Linked DNA regions of Homo sapiens. Each later gene encodes a partner of the first gene's protein in a complex. Each region holds a gene or a part of one and is shown on either strand. Other genes may lie near its edges. A codon is read from its position in the direction of its gene.

Evidence for each region.
Region 2: the proteins of NAA20 (region 1) and SNCA are in contact, whole or in part, in a cryo-EM structure (PDB 7STX), measured with the Homo sapiens proteins. Residues at the interface, in NP_057184.1 of Homo sapiens: Leu23, Thr24, Glu25, Tyr27, His73, Val74, Thr75, Ala76, Leu77, Ser78, Leu110 (codon at 1,626), Phe111 (codon at 1,623), Tyr137 (codon at 1,545), Tyr138 (codon at 1,542), Ser139 (codon at 1,539), Ala140 (codon at 1,536); in NP_000336.1 of Homo sapiens: Met1, Asp2, Val3, Phe4.

What each region holds. Positions count from the first base shown.
Region 1 is NC_000020.11:20,027,072-20,034,155, reverse strand, and holds the end of NAA20 (N-alpha-acetyltransferase 20), read right to left. Parts: intron 1,649-7,084; coding exon 1,503-1,648; intron 1,055-1,502; coding exon 969-1,054; 3' UTR 501-968; downstream 1-500. UniProt on the Homo sapiens protein: Catalytic subunit of the NatB complex which catalyzes acetylation of the N-terminal methionine residues of peptides beginning with Met-Asp, Met-Glu, Met-Asn and Met-Gln. Proteins with cell cycle functions are overrepresented in the pool of NatB substrates.
Region 2 is NC_000004.12:89,728,964-89,736,253, forward strand, and holds part of SNCA (alpha-synuclein), read right to left. Parts: intron 315-7,290; coding exon 231-314; intron 1-230. UniProt on the Homo sapiens protein: Neuronal protein that plays several roles in synaptic activity such as regulation of synaptic vesicle trafficking and subsequent neurotransmitter release.

The DNA.
Region 1 (7,084 bases):
CAGGATTTAAGCAAAGCATTGTGAAGAGGAGAAAAGATCTAGGACTAACAAACAAACAGTATAATGGTATGAACGCAGGTGACTGGGAAGAATTTACTACACGATAAGAAGGGAGCTTCTTAAGTATGCTGGACAGTGATTGCTTCAAGTGTGCATTTTTAAAATACTACGTATGGAAGTCACAATTTAATTAAACGTATCTTAAATGATGATGACCTTTCACAATCCTGATTTTTTTTTTTTTTTTTTTTCTTGAGGCAGGGTCTTACTCTGTTGCCCGGGCTGGAGTGCAGTGGGACGATCTCAGCTCACTGCAACCTCCACCTCCAGGGTTCAAGCAATTCTTGTGCTTCAGCTTCTGCATAGCTGGGATGCCCAGCTAATTTTTGTATTTTTTTTAGTATAGATTTTGGCCAGGCTGGTCTCAAACTCCTGACCTCAAGCAATCAGCCTGCCTTGGCCTCCCAAAGTACTGGGATTACAATCTGATTTAGTTTTACAAATGACTAACAAACTTCAGAAAACATTCATAGAGTCAATAATGTATTATACATCTTAGATTTATACATTTCATATATGCTTTTAAAGCTTCAATTAACAGTTCAATACAAAATTTAAAAACAAATATATGCAGCAGTGGTTCTCAGGCACAGAACTGAGGAGGAGACTGGAGCAAGTCTTTTCCCTAGCATACATACAGTGAATACTATGAACCATGAGAGTGGTATGTTTCCTTCTGACCTAGCTGCCTTTTTGATTGAATTTTGTTACAATGAACAGCTTTAATAGGTATGATATTGCTAACTGGAAACAATGAGATTTAAAATAAATTGATAACCTGTATTTTCTTGAAGTCTTTAAGACCTAAAATGATTACTTTTCTCCTAATAGAGCTCCAGAATCATCCAATGAAAATAATATTGTCCATAAAGCATCTAGAGTATCTGCCTAAGAACCACTGCCCAGGGTTATTCAATGTCTTCAGGCCTCACAGGATGAGGTAATGGTATGATGGATTTCTTCTCAGTATCCCTGGAAAGTGCTTTCCTCATATCTGTAAAGAAGCAAAGTTTAATATAAACACCCAAAAAATGTATTATATCAAATGTAAAGTGTATAGGTAAAGTTCCCATAAGAGGTTTTATCCCTACCCCCACTTCACCATATTCTAAGCAAAATGTATTTATAAATGTCTCCCAATTGCCAAGTGTACCAGATGCTAACCAGACCTCACCCAGTATTCAGCTCACAATACACGTTTTCTTGTTAGCAAAATAATATGTATGTAACAGAGTGAAACAGTAAGGTACAGAAATTAACCATTGGTTAGTTAATAGGTAAGTTAATTACTACTACTAATAGGTTGATAAAGGTAGGTTGAGGGAAATTTAAATTTTAAAGTCAAATATTCTACATTTATTAAAATAATCAAATACTACAATCTGTAGAAAGAATGTAACTGTTTCGACTTCTTGGGGATACTGCCATGGAAGGGAGCTTACCATAAGCGTCCTCATCAGGCTCCCCGTTGCTGGCCGAATAGTACTCTATGACCGTCCTATATACACTGTAGCCCAACTGCTTGTACATGTTAACTGCAACTTGGTTAGATACTCTTACAAAGAGATCCACAAAAAATCCACCCTTTCTTTAAAAGAAAAACAAAAAAGGAAAATGTTAGAATGTGAGAAACCCTAGAAAGTAATAGATACATATTTTTTTTAAAACGTGTTTTTACCTTGCTTTGACTACTACTCAGAATGGTAGTAATAGGACCTTGTAGCTGATTACATGGTAATAGAAATTTGTATTACTTAGGATTTATGACAATTACTTTGCAGTGTAAGAACATGACTTTATGTTTGCATGCTAGTATTTCAAAAGCAACACGTTTTCTTAAAAGATAAACTCAAGGCATTTGTTCTACAAATTCACCACCTATTACAGTTTCTCCTGTTTATGAAGTTTATATACATGGAATCATATATTCTTTTGTCTTTTGCTTCTCTCAGTCGACTAACATTGTAAGAGTCAGCTTCAAGAGTGGCTGGGCTTGTGCACAAGTCATTCACGGTCCTGTTGATACGTTTCTGGCTTTTACTATACAAACGATGCTCCTGTGAATACTTCTGTTGAGTGTCTCACGTAAGGTCTATAGCTAGGAGTCTCACTGTTGTGTCACAGGGCACATCTTCATTAGTTAATACCAAACTGTTTTTCCAACTGGCTTGTACCAACTTACTCTTGCACAGAAGTGAGTAAGCCTCCATTCCACAGCAACAAGGCTTGGTGCATCACATGTTTTTATTTTTGCCAATCTTACAGTGTAACTATATCTCAGATTTTAATTTGTATTTCCAATTACTAACAATGCTGAATATATTTCTGTTGGTTGGCCATTTAGATTTCTCCTTCTGTATAGTACTTAAATCTTTCATACAATTTTTCCCCCGCTACAGTTCTCTATGTATTGTGAATATTCAATACTGTGTAATGTCTGCAAGTATCTTTTTCCAATTTGTGGTTTGTCTTGTCATTATCCTTATGTTATCTTTTGATAAAAAGTTACTTCACTTCAGTGAAGCTGAATATATGAATCCTTTCCTTAGCCTTTTTATGGCCTTTTTAAAAAGTTCTACACTGAGGCCACAGAGACACTCTGCCATATTATATTCAAAAGACTTCTTAGTTTTGGTTTCACATCTAGGTTTTTAATAAATCTGGAGTTGATTTGTGTATGGAATAATGGTAATCTGGGAAATTTTTTTTTCCCATAGGGACATCCAATTGTCCAACCACCTTTACTGAAAAGTCTATCTTCATACTATTGATGTGCAATGCCTCTTCTGTGGTATGTTAAAGTCCATATATTCTTGGGTCTGTTTCTCAAATTCTGTAACACTGGTCTAGATAACTACAGCACTAAGATATAGTCTCACTCTTTACAGTCTGATACCTGGAGGGGCACATCACCCATTTTTGTTGTTGTTCAAGAATATCTTGTCTCTTTTTTGCTCTTTCTGTTCCTCTGTATGTTTCAGAGTCAGCTTAACAAGTACTATAAAAAATGCTTGGGATTTTGACTGCAATTACATTGGAACTGCGGTCGATTACCTGTTTACTGTATCCTCTAATCCAGTGATAGTTTATCGCTCCACTTATCAGGGCTACTTTAATATCTCTCAAAAAAGTTTTTTAAATGTCAGAGAGGTCTTGCATAGCACTTGCTAGATTCTTAAGTACTTAATGTTTTTTCATGCTATGGCATCTTTTTCTAAATTTTACTGTTTATATATATATAAATACAATTGATTTTTATACTGACTTTCTATCCAACAACCTTGCCTACCTTTTATTAATTCTAAACATTTATTTCTAGATTCTTGTGGATTTTATATTTGTATAATCATATCTGTGCAAAATAAGTAAGTTTTGTTTCCTCTCATATGTAAATACAATTGATTTTTATACTGACTTTATATCCAACAACTTTGCCTTTTATTAATTCTAAATATTTATATTCTTATGGATTTTATATTTATATAATCATATCTGTGCAAAATAAGTTTTGTTTCCTCTCAATCCTCCTATCGTTTATTTTTTCCTGCTTTCCTGTGCTATAATTTCTAGTAAATTACTGAAGCGGGACTAACTTGTCCCTAATTTCAAAAGGAAAGCATTCAGTGTATCACTACTAAATATATTTACTACAAATTTCTTGTAGATATTTTTCAGGTTAAGGAAGTTCCCCCTTTCTATTTCCCAGTTTGCTAACAGTTTTTATCAGGAAGGAATATTGGATTTTATCAAGTTTGCTGCACTTTCTAAAATAACCAGTGTTCTCCTTTAGTGTAAAGTTGAAACCACCTTGTTCCTGATGTGTCATCCTATTTATGTAGTGCCAAATCCACTTTGCTAATTATTTTTCCGAGATTTTGCATCTGAGTGAGATGTTCCTCGAATTTTCCTTTCCCATATTTTGCCAAGTATTGTTATCAAGGTTATCCTGGCCTTAAAAAATAAGTTGAGGAATGTTCCCTTTTTTGGCTTGTGCAAAATAGTTTGTGTAAAAGTGACCTTTCAGTCATTATTTCTTAAATGTTTAGTAAAATTGGCCAGAGAAGCCACAGCTTTCTTCGTGAAAAGATTTTGGGCTACTGATTGAAATTCTTTAGGGCAGGGGTTGGCTTATAACCTATTTTGCTACTGCCTTCAAGCTAAGAATGGTTTTTGCAATGGTTGTTAAAAACAAAACAAAACAAAACAAAACAAAAAACTATGTAACCAAGACTTTAGGTGGCCTGTAATGCCTGAATATTTACTATCTGACCCAGAAGAAAATTGCTGATTCTTGTTCTATAGGCTTGACAAATTTCTATCTCATTGTTCTATCAATTAGAAAAAAGCATGTCTAAATCTCCCATTATAATAATAATTTGTCTATTTCTCCTTGTAGTTTTGTCAATTTGTGCATTTTTACTTTGAAATGATGTCACTTGGTATATACCATTTTAAATCGCTATTTTTTTTTTTTTTTTTGAGATGGAGTCTCGCTCTGTTGCACAGGCTGGAGTGCAATGGCGTGATCTTGGCTCACTGTAATCTTCGCCTCCCAGGTTCAAGCAATTCTCCTGCCTCAGCCTCCCGAGTAGCTGGGATTACAGTCACGTGCTACCACACCCGGCTAATTTTTGTATTTTTAGTCGAGACGGGATTTCACCATGTTGGCCAGACTGGTCTGGAACTCCTGACCTCAAGTGATCCACCTGTCTCGGCCTCCCAAGGTGCTGGGATTACAGTCATGAGCCACCACTCCCAGACTTGTTACTTCCTTGATTAAATATTTTATCAATATGCAGTGACCCTTTTTTATGCTGGTAATAATTATTCAACTATAACTATTATTAATAAGTATTCTAACTTTCTTTTGGTTAGAATTTGCAAGGTAATTTAAAAATTTACTTTCAATCTTTCTGTATTAAAAATATTTTAATATATTTTACACATATTTCCTGTAAACAATACAGACAGCCTTTGTCTTTTAAATAGAGTCATCATAGCTGGCCGTGCATGGTGGTGGGCGCCTGTAATCCCAGCTACTCAGAGGGTGAGAGAGGAAAATCATTTGAGCCTGGGAGGCAGACGTTGCAGTGAGCTGAGATCACGCCACTGCACTCCAGCCTGAGCAACAGAGCAAGACCCCATCTCCAAAACTAATAATAAATAAATAAAGTCCTAAGTCCATTAACGTTTACTGTTGTAATTACTGACAATATTTGGATTCTGGGCTACCATTTTATTTCATGCATTTTGTTTTGCTGGTTTAATTTCCTTTTTCTCTTCTTTGGAGTTGACTTCTATCATTCAATTTTTCTTCTCCTCTACTTGTTTGGTTTCTATTTTTAATGTATACATTGTATGCACTATGTATACATGTATATAGTGTATATAAGCATATGTATATGTATCATGTATGTGTATATGTATATATATGCCTACAAATGAAGATTACTTAAATCTTAGCAACTAGTCTAAAATAATGAAGGCTTAGAAACTGGAAGGGAAGAGAGCTTAGTGGTCTTCTACTCAGAGGGAGAATCTATCATACAAATACCCTAAATTATATGTGCAAGGTCATAGCTAGTTACGACCTGCTTTTTTTTATTATTATTATACTTTAAGTTCTGGGATACATGTGCAGAACGTGCAGGTTTGTTACATAGGTATACGCGTGCCATGGTGGTTTGCTGCACCCATCAACTCGTCATCTACATTAGGTATTTATCCTAATTCTATCCCTCCCTTAGACCCCCACCCCCGACAGGCCCTGGTGTGTGATGTTCCCCTCCCTGTGTCCATGTGTTCTCATTGAACAACCCACTTTCTAACTCCCTGTTCACTATACAATAATGCCAAATACTTTTTTTCAACATAATGCCATTAATAAATGTGTGTAAACTATAATCATGCTAAAATTTTCTTCCCTTCTTTGTTTGGTCTAGAGAGAACTTTAAAAAATCTTAAAGATTAGCACCGACTTCTTTTTCAGCTAACACAATTTCTTCTCTGAATGAGTTTGAGCTCCTTTGCCTCTAATTTGGCTTGAAGTCTTTGTCAGGCCACAGATACTTCTTTAAAACTTGCCTTTATTAAATCTAATAATTAAGTAGAAATTAAGCTCAAGAACCCTTCTCAGCAACTATTCTCTTTCCTACCACACTTTTAGGAAATTACAGTGGAGAAAGAAATGGCAGCTTGACAACAGGTGAAGCTACTACAAACATCTCTCTTCTAGAATGAAGATACGAGGAGGGGCCTTCTCTTCTATTTATTGTATTTCTTTTATCTCCAGTAATGAAGAGGTTTGATATATACAACACGTCCCTTAAAAAAAAAAAAAAAAATGCCATGCTGGCAGTTCGCAAACTGTGCACTCAGGTGCCCTAAGGTGTCCCAAACTCATACAGCCACCAAAGGATATTTCGAATGTTCAGGGAAAACAGCAAAACCTTACATGTCAGATATTGGCAAACTAGTTTGAAGTAGTTCACAAATTCAACGTAAGATCATGCTACATTCCTCTTAATGACATAATATTTCTATGAAGCTGAGTTTCTGGCAGTTGCTGTGATTAAAAAAAAATACTAGATGAAAATCAATATGAAACAGGAATGCAAGTGGTTCTGCCAAGTCATTTAATGTCCAACAGGTGCACACCTCTCATTGGTAGCTAGCCACAGTTATTTAAGAATGAAATGAAAATATTTCTTCTTTCAATTTATTTTTTTTCTAAATGGCTATTAGCTGTTAGGCTATAAATACTTATTAAACAGTTAGAATATAACTGCTTAAGACTGAACTATTTTCTTTTGGCCGAGGAGCACTGCTAAAAATTTATTCAGATGCCAAAGCAATGGTAACAGATTTTAGGAATGTGTGCCACTGTGGCAGGAACACTAAGAGAAACCTCGAGAGCTAGCCTTTGGAACTGAATTGCACCAATTCCTCAGCTTATAGGCCTATAGCGGGTCACTACAACACTTTGCCTTAATTTCCTCAATGGCAAAATAGAAACAATATCACT
Region 2 (7,290 bases), on another chromosome or scaffold:
GGACTACATATGATTTCTTTTACATCCTTTCTTCCTCTTCTTCATCTTCCTCCTCCTCTTTTTTTTTAAGGACCCTTTAAAAATGTAAAAACTATTCTTAACTTGCAAGTTGTCCACGTAATGAGCATGTAGAGAGCAAATGATTCTCACTAAGCACTAATGAAAGAGAAATGTGACAATGACAGGTTTTTGGTACTGTCTTGTTAGAAAGATTCAGCTTGGACTCCTACCTCAGAAGGCATTTCATAAGCCTCATTGTCAGGATCCACAGGCATATCTTCCAGAATTCCTTCCTGTGGGGCTCCTTCTTCATTCTAATATTTAAAGTAAGAAGCACAAAAAGAACATGATGAAGTAGCATTTTTCACTTTTAAAAATCAGAACCATGTTTTGGAAAAATCTTACATATAGGGATGTTGGCCACGGATCTTGAAAATGGCACACCTTAATATTACTACTGGCATTCTAAACTCCACAATGCCTCCGGGGAAACATTGCGGCAACATGGGTTATCAACCCTCAAAGTATGTAAACTTTTTGCTCAAGTAATTTACTATTTAGGAAATAATCCACAGCTATAGTCCAAAGATATTTTTCACAAGATCAATGACAGCAGGAAACAAAATTTTTAGAATTGTTAACTAAATGTTCAATGAATAATGAAGAGTTAAAAAATTATTGCTGGGTGCAGTGGTTCACTCCTGTGATTTCAGCACTTTGGGAGGCTGAGGCAGGTGGATCATTTGAGTCCAGGAGTTCAAGACCAGCCTGGGCTGTTACAATGAAACCCCATCTCTACTAAAAATACAAATAAATAGCTGGGCATGGTGGCACATGCCTACAGTCCCAGCCACTTGGGAGGCTGAGGCAGGAGGATCACTTGAGCCTGGGAGGTAGAGGCTACAGTGAGCCATGTGCATGCCACTGCATTCTAGCCTGGGTGACAGAGGGAGACCTTGTCTTAAAAAAAATTATCATTCAACTACTCAGTAGATTATGATAAAGACCTGTATTACTATTACCTGAGAATTATGTAACAACTACCTATTTATGGTATAATATTTAGCAGGCTATAAAGTGTTGTCTATATTATAGATACAACCTACACAGAATTCAGACGCAAAGGTAAAAAGTTTGGAAGAAAACACAATAAAATATGAAAGTTATTTTGTTGGATAGTATGTATGTTATTTTGACTTTTTTTCTAAGTGTTTAACTTTTATAACCACTTATAATGTAAAAGCATACATATTTAACACATTAATTTTAAATGACAATGAAGAAACAAATTCTTTTCTGAAATTTGAAGACTGAGACTATACATATTGAAGGAAAATAATCAAATACATGGTCAGAAAATTTTTCTAGGTATCTCTTCCTAGACAAAGAATACTACAAAACTCAGCCTGAAATGGTCATGGCTTTGTTGGTATTCTTCACTAAATACCTTTTGTTGCTTTGCATTTATTTCAGCAAAGTAATTATAAGAAGATAAAGGTAAGTGAAAATTCAAAGAACAGAGAGGCAATGTGAGCCTAAAGGGACTTGGAGAAAGAGATCAAATAATCCCTCAGCCAACGCGGCTGATTTTCAACAACATGTCTGATGTAAAAAAGCTTCCCCATGTCTTCACATGGAAGTGACTGACAGGGACGCAGAAGTATAAGAAAATGGCTAACAGTAAGAAAAGGTCACACTAAAGATCATGCTTATGGTAGGTGGGCAGAGAAGCTTACAGATCATTCTGCCCTTGCCAATGCCCTTTTTATAAACTAAAAAAAATCCAAATAATATATAAATTAAATAAAATATGAACCACCCCAAACTACCTCACTTTAAAATGTGGAGTAAACATACTGTTTTCGTAGTGTTTCACTTCTTGGTAGATACGCCTCTGCTGCAGGATGGCTAGGCACAAGGCCTTCCATGTCACAGGACTTGAGCTCAAGTCCTAGCTTCTCTAGATGACAGAGCTTTTGTGATGCTGAGAAGTTTCCTATGCTTTTTCTGAGTGTCAATTAGTCTTAGTGATCAAACGGGACAGCAAAACCTTCTTTACAACAGGGAGAAGGAAACGACATCATTAACTTTCTCATTAATATTTAGATTACTGTTAGGATATCCAAGTATAAGGGAAATAAGGCAAATTTTTTTCCATGATTTTGAAACTGACAGAGATTTGATTTTCTAATATAATTTGTTAGAAAATTTTGATATGGACCAGACAAGTAAATATGGCAGACCTACCCTGTTTGTTGTTTGATGATCAAAAAGGAGTTGTTATGACGGAACTAAGACTGATGGATATTACTGGATTTGTTTATATGTTATTTGGCTGAACTTTGAAGGATGTACACAGATGTGTAGGTTAGGTGAGTGTGTGTGTCTGCATGGTTCCAGCCTGGGTGAGTGGGTGTGTACAAGAGCACCCTGCAGTAATGGAACAGCGTCCTGTCCGGGGTGGGTTCCCATATTGCTCCCTGAGCTGCCAGGATAGGCTCCAACCACCTGCGGCCTCCACCGAAATAATTAGGTAAGTTATTTGACTTGTTTGTATTAATCTTTCTTAAACGTATATATAGCTCACATTAATTTCAATGTTTAATGTCAGAAGTGATTTATCTTTATTTAGGAGTTTGATGGTGTTTTTGTGTCCAGAAATTTGCCATAGGACTTAATTCTTGCTTATATCAATTAGCCAATGGTAAAACTGGTTTTGTTATATGTTGTTTTGCTTCAAGTCACAGTTTCCAGAAACTATTGATGAAGTTAAGTGAGGATTTACTGTATTATGTGCCCTCTGATGGAAGTACATACACATCACCATCTTAAACTAAGACTGTACTAGTTTAAGTGGGCTATTGTTCACTGATCCAATAACTTCATCAAGTGGGAACAAGCTACACTAGGGATGACAGCACAATCCTATTCTAGAGTCCAAATCGACAATAGGGTTTACGACCTCGATGTTGGATCAGGTCATCCTAATGGTGTAACTGCTATTAAAGGTTCGTTTGTTCGACAATTGAAGTCCTACATGATCGGTGAGGTCAGGAGATCTATAGCATCCTGGCCAACATGGTGAAACCCCATCTCTACTAAAATACAAAAAGTTAGCCGGGCGTGGTGGTTCTCCTATAGTCCCAGCTACTCGGGAGACTGAGCCAGGGGAATCACTTGAACCCGGGAGGTGGAGATTGCAGTGAGCCCAGATCACACCATTGCACTCCAGCCTGGTGACGGAGTGAGACTCCGTCTCAAAATAAATAAATAAATATATAAATAGAAAAAGAAAACAAAAAAAGAAAAGCCCTACGTGATCCGAATTTGAATTTGATTAACATTTAACTATCACTGACAACTTACAGCAAATATAAGGTGGTGAAAAACATGTTCATTGCTTACAACAGTGGCTACAATCAGCAAATTTTGCACTGTGAGAAACTACACAAGACAAAGAATACGTCTAATTTCAATAAGTAAATTGCAACTAAAAAGAAGTTAGTGGGAACCTGCCGCTTAAAGTAGAAGTGAGAGAGCATTAGCCAATTGCAACCTAAGAACTTTATTTCATTCTCATTGGGAACCCTACATAAGCAAATGGAAAACACATATGAGGTAGTTGGGGAAATTTGAACACTGACTTGATATTTAAGAATTATTGTTTATTTCTTTAGGTGTGATGATATATTGCAGTTTTACTTCAAAAAGTTCTTAACTTTTACAAATTAATTAAATGTTTACAGATCAAATAAGATATCTATCTAGGTTTGGGTGGGGGAAATGGGTGGGATATAGAAGAAACATGAGTTTAATATTTCATCAGTTTTAAAAAGTATATACAGTAGTCTCCTTTTATCCGTGGTTTTGTTTTCCATGGTTTCAGTTGCCCACCACCAATTGCAACCCCAAAATACTAAGATATTTAGAGACAGAGAGAGAGGGAAAGAGAAAGCGAGACCATACCCACATAACTTTTATTACAGTATATTATTATAATTGTTCTCTTTTGTTATTAGTTATTGTTGTTAATCTCTTACTGTGCCTAGTTTATAAATTAAACTTTTTCATAGGTACATAAGCATTGGAAAAAACAGTATATGTAGGGTTTGCTACTATCCGCAATTTCAGGTGTCCTAGTGGGGGTTTCAGAATGTATCCCTGTAGATAAAGGAAGACTGCTGTATGCTCATTTCAATAGTTAGTTCTCTAACTATGTTTTTCTGAATATGTGATCTAAATTTGTTGACTCTATCACATTCGTAGATTTTAAGCATACTAAAATATTTGGCAGCTATTCCAAGGAGAATATAACAACAAACACTTCATATGACCATCAGACACAATTTTATCCCTATACCTGTATATTTACTGTTTCATAAACCTATTTCTAAAAACATTGTTATCTATAAAGAAATATTAAATTTCAACTCCAATTTACAACTGTGCCTAATATAGTTTGGCTGTAACAAAAAAAGAACATTAAAATTTGCATTTTATGAGTATTCATGACTTGTTTTCAAAATATAATCATACTTGAAGGTGTGAAGTGCACCTTCTATTTATTTTTACCACAAACAAGAAAAAAAACTACCAATATAACAAATGTTAAACACTTTTGAAAAAATCAATTTTTTCTCAAATTTTCATTATGATATTATATTAACCCAGAATATGTTAGGGCAATAAAATAAATGAGAAAAACGTCTGGATTTTGGTATATGCCTGTATGCTTAATAAGAGAACCTACAGGGTAGGATATAGAGACATAGTAAGAAAATACCTTTTATTCTCTCTCTACTAGGCCCTATCCCTGGAATAGCTGTAGACTTTTTTTTTTCAAATGGGATTGTTTTACGAACAGTGAAATAGACTCAGTTCAGTATCTTATATCTGCATTTGACACACAGAAAGAAAAATGGTTATCAAAAAATTACAATGGAATGACCCTCATTGCTAATAAGGAAAGACTTAAAAGCTATATTAGGAAACAGAAATGGCTGAGACTGACCTCTTTCTCCCTAAAAAGCTTATTCAAGTTCTTTTTAAATAAACCTGTAGGGTTGAATAGCTGATATAACTGATTATCATTTCGTACTCGTCCCAGCTGAAGTGCTCTATAAAACAGATCATGAGACGAAGCTTCCTTCACTGCTAATAGCTTATTGGGAAGTACAATTCCAGGGAAGTGAAAGTGAAGGAAAAGGGAAGTGATACAAGGAGAAGTAGGAAAAAATTTCAGCTACTGTCTTTAGGAATACAACTACAGAATTTACATAATCTTTTTAAATTTCCTGTTTTGAACCATATTGTATTTAGATACCTAGTAATACTTTCTGTAAGGAAATTATCTTTATTCAATTCTATGACTTATAACTTTAATTTTAAATATATTTAAAATGACACATAATAAAGGCAAAAATTGCTTTCCAAACCACACTCTTCTAGAATCATCTAGGGCCCTTGTTAAAAATGCAGGTTTGTAGGGCCTTGTGAGTGTCTTGTTAAGTATGTTCCTTGGAAACCACTGCCCGACATCACCAATTGTTTGTAAACCCTGTGGTATAATTTAATATAGAGTATACCAATGTACTTGCTGTCAGTGTGAATAATTTTTTTTAAAAAAGATATGCTCATTTTGAAGTCCATCAAATGTTGGCAAATGTTGAGGGTTATCTGAAGACACTGGGAAGTAATCCATGGTGATCGTTAAAATAGCAAGGTTTCATCAATTATCTGGTATCTATGCTTTGTCAAAGTTAGAAATGTAGAGATACATTTCTAAATTAAAACTTTTATGTGGGAAGAAAAATTGAAATTCAAGGCTGGTTGGTCTTTGGTATACCCAAAGAACAAAGAGGAGGTTGGAGGTGTTCTGAAAAAGAGAAATGATACACGCTGCTCTTTGAGAAAGTTCATTGGCACTAGAAAGGTTCTGGGGAGCTAGTAAGCTTCAATTGGTGAGTGACAGTGGTGGGCAAAATTAGTCCTAGAGCTGCAGCAAGTTTTTTCAGCAGTTACAGAAAAAATTGGTCCCAGGTTACAACAGGCAGCCTCAGCATGCGGACTTGTAGAAAATTACACTTTTGGAGCAATGTGATGTTTCTTGAATGCTTTTCCTCCCAGGCTTCTTGATTGTTTTAGTTGGGTATAACAAGAATGACCCAATTTGTGTGATCAACTTTCACAGCCTTAAACATTCAAAGCAGCAGAAGCGCACTTTCTCTTTTGCCCACTGCTTTTACACTTGAAGATATTTTGGGTAGAACCATTGTTTTGCTGCATTATTGAACAATGTCACTTAGCCTCAAATAATGGAATTAATACCTTCACTCAACAACTCACACCAGGAGGATGAAGGAGAGAGATAGTAGCCAAAAAGATAAAAGAAGAAACTAAAAAAGAACTTTGACTTAAGAGGAAAAAAAGGTTCAACTTAAGCACACACCCGTGTTCCAAAATGAAATCAAGCCCAGAACTCGTATTTAAATAAAAATAGCATAGACGTTTCAAAAATGTGAATATTCTCTACTTCTCTACCTCAGACAGGGGAGTGTGTACATAGTGTAGATAGTATATTTCACTAAGAGAATTACCATGTATTTTATTGATGCACTTAAAAATGAAGGCGATAGACATGAATACCTTGTTAAAAAGCAAGGTAAAGATATATTTCATATGTTCAATTTTCTATTATCAATTCCTAGTCTGCTCATAATGCCATTTTGGGGTGGGGAGCAAAGGGCATCTGATTCAAAATCAAACTAATCTCAATTTTTGATAAAATCTAAGGAATTTTATTTTTAAAACATTGAATTAAAGCAAACTTTGGATACTCTGATTTCTCTTGAGGTCATAAATCCTCTGCCTTTTTAAGAGATCTATGTGGAGAGGAACAACTCTGGGTCTTAAACGAATTATTGAGGTCTTGTTTTGGAAAGGCTAGATATTTTGTTAAAAAATATAAGATTTCAAAAAACCTAAAACTTTGGACAATGTTATTTAATCATCAAAAGCAAAACAATATGCATATTTCAGAAATAACACTATATTTTCAGTCTTACTATTATGCATAAGAAAGAACAATATAAAAATAATGTAATGATTACATTTATTGTTTACATACTCTGAGGAGTATTTAATTGCATCCTAGTAAGTATATTCTGTCACATGAGAAGCCATAGAAATTGGCATGTTCTGCTGTATCCAATGCCCAAAGGATAATAAAGCATGATAAAATTACACTTAACGAACCCAACCTCCTTTTCCAATTATATATGGTTAAGTTAA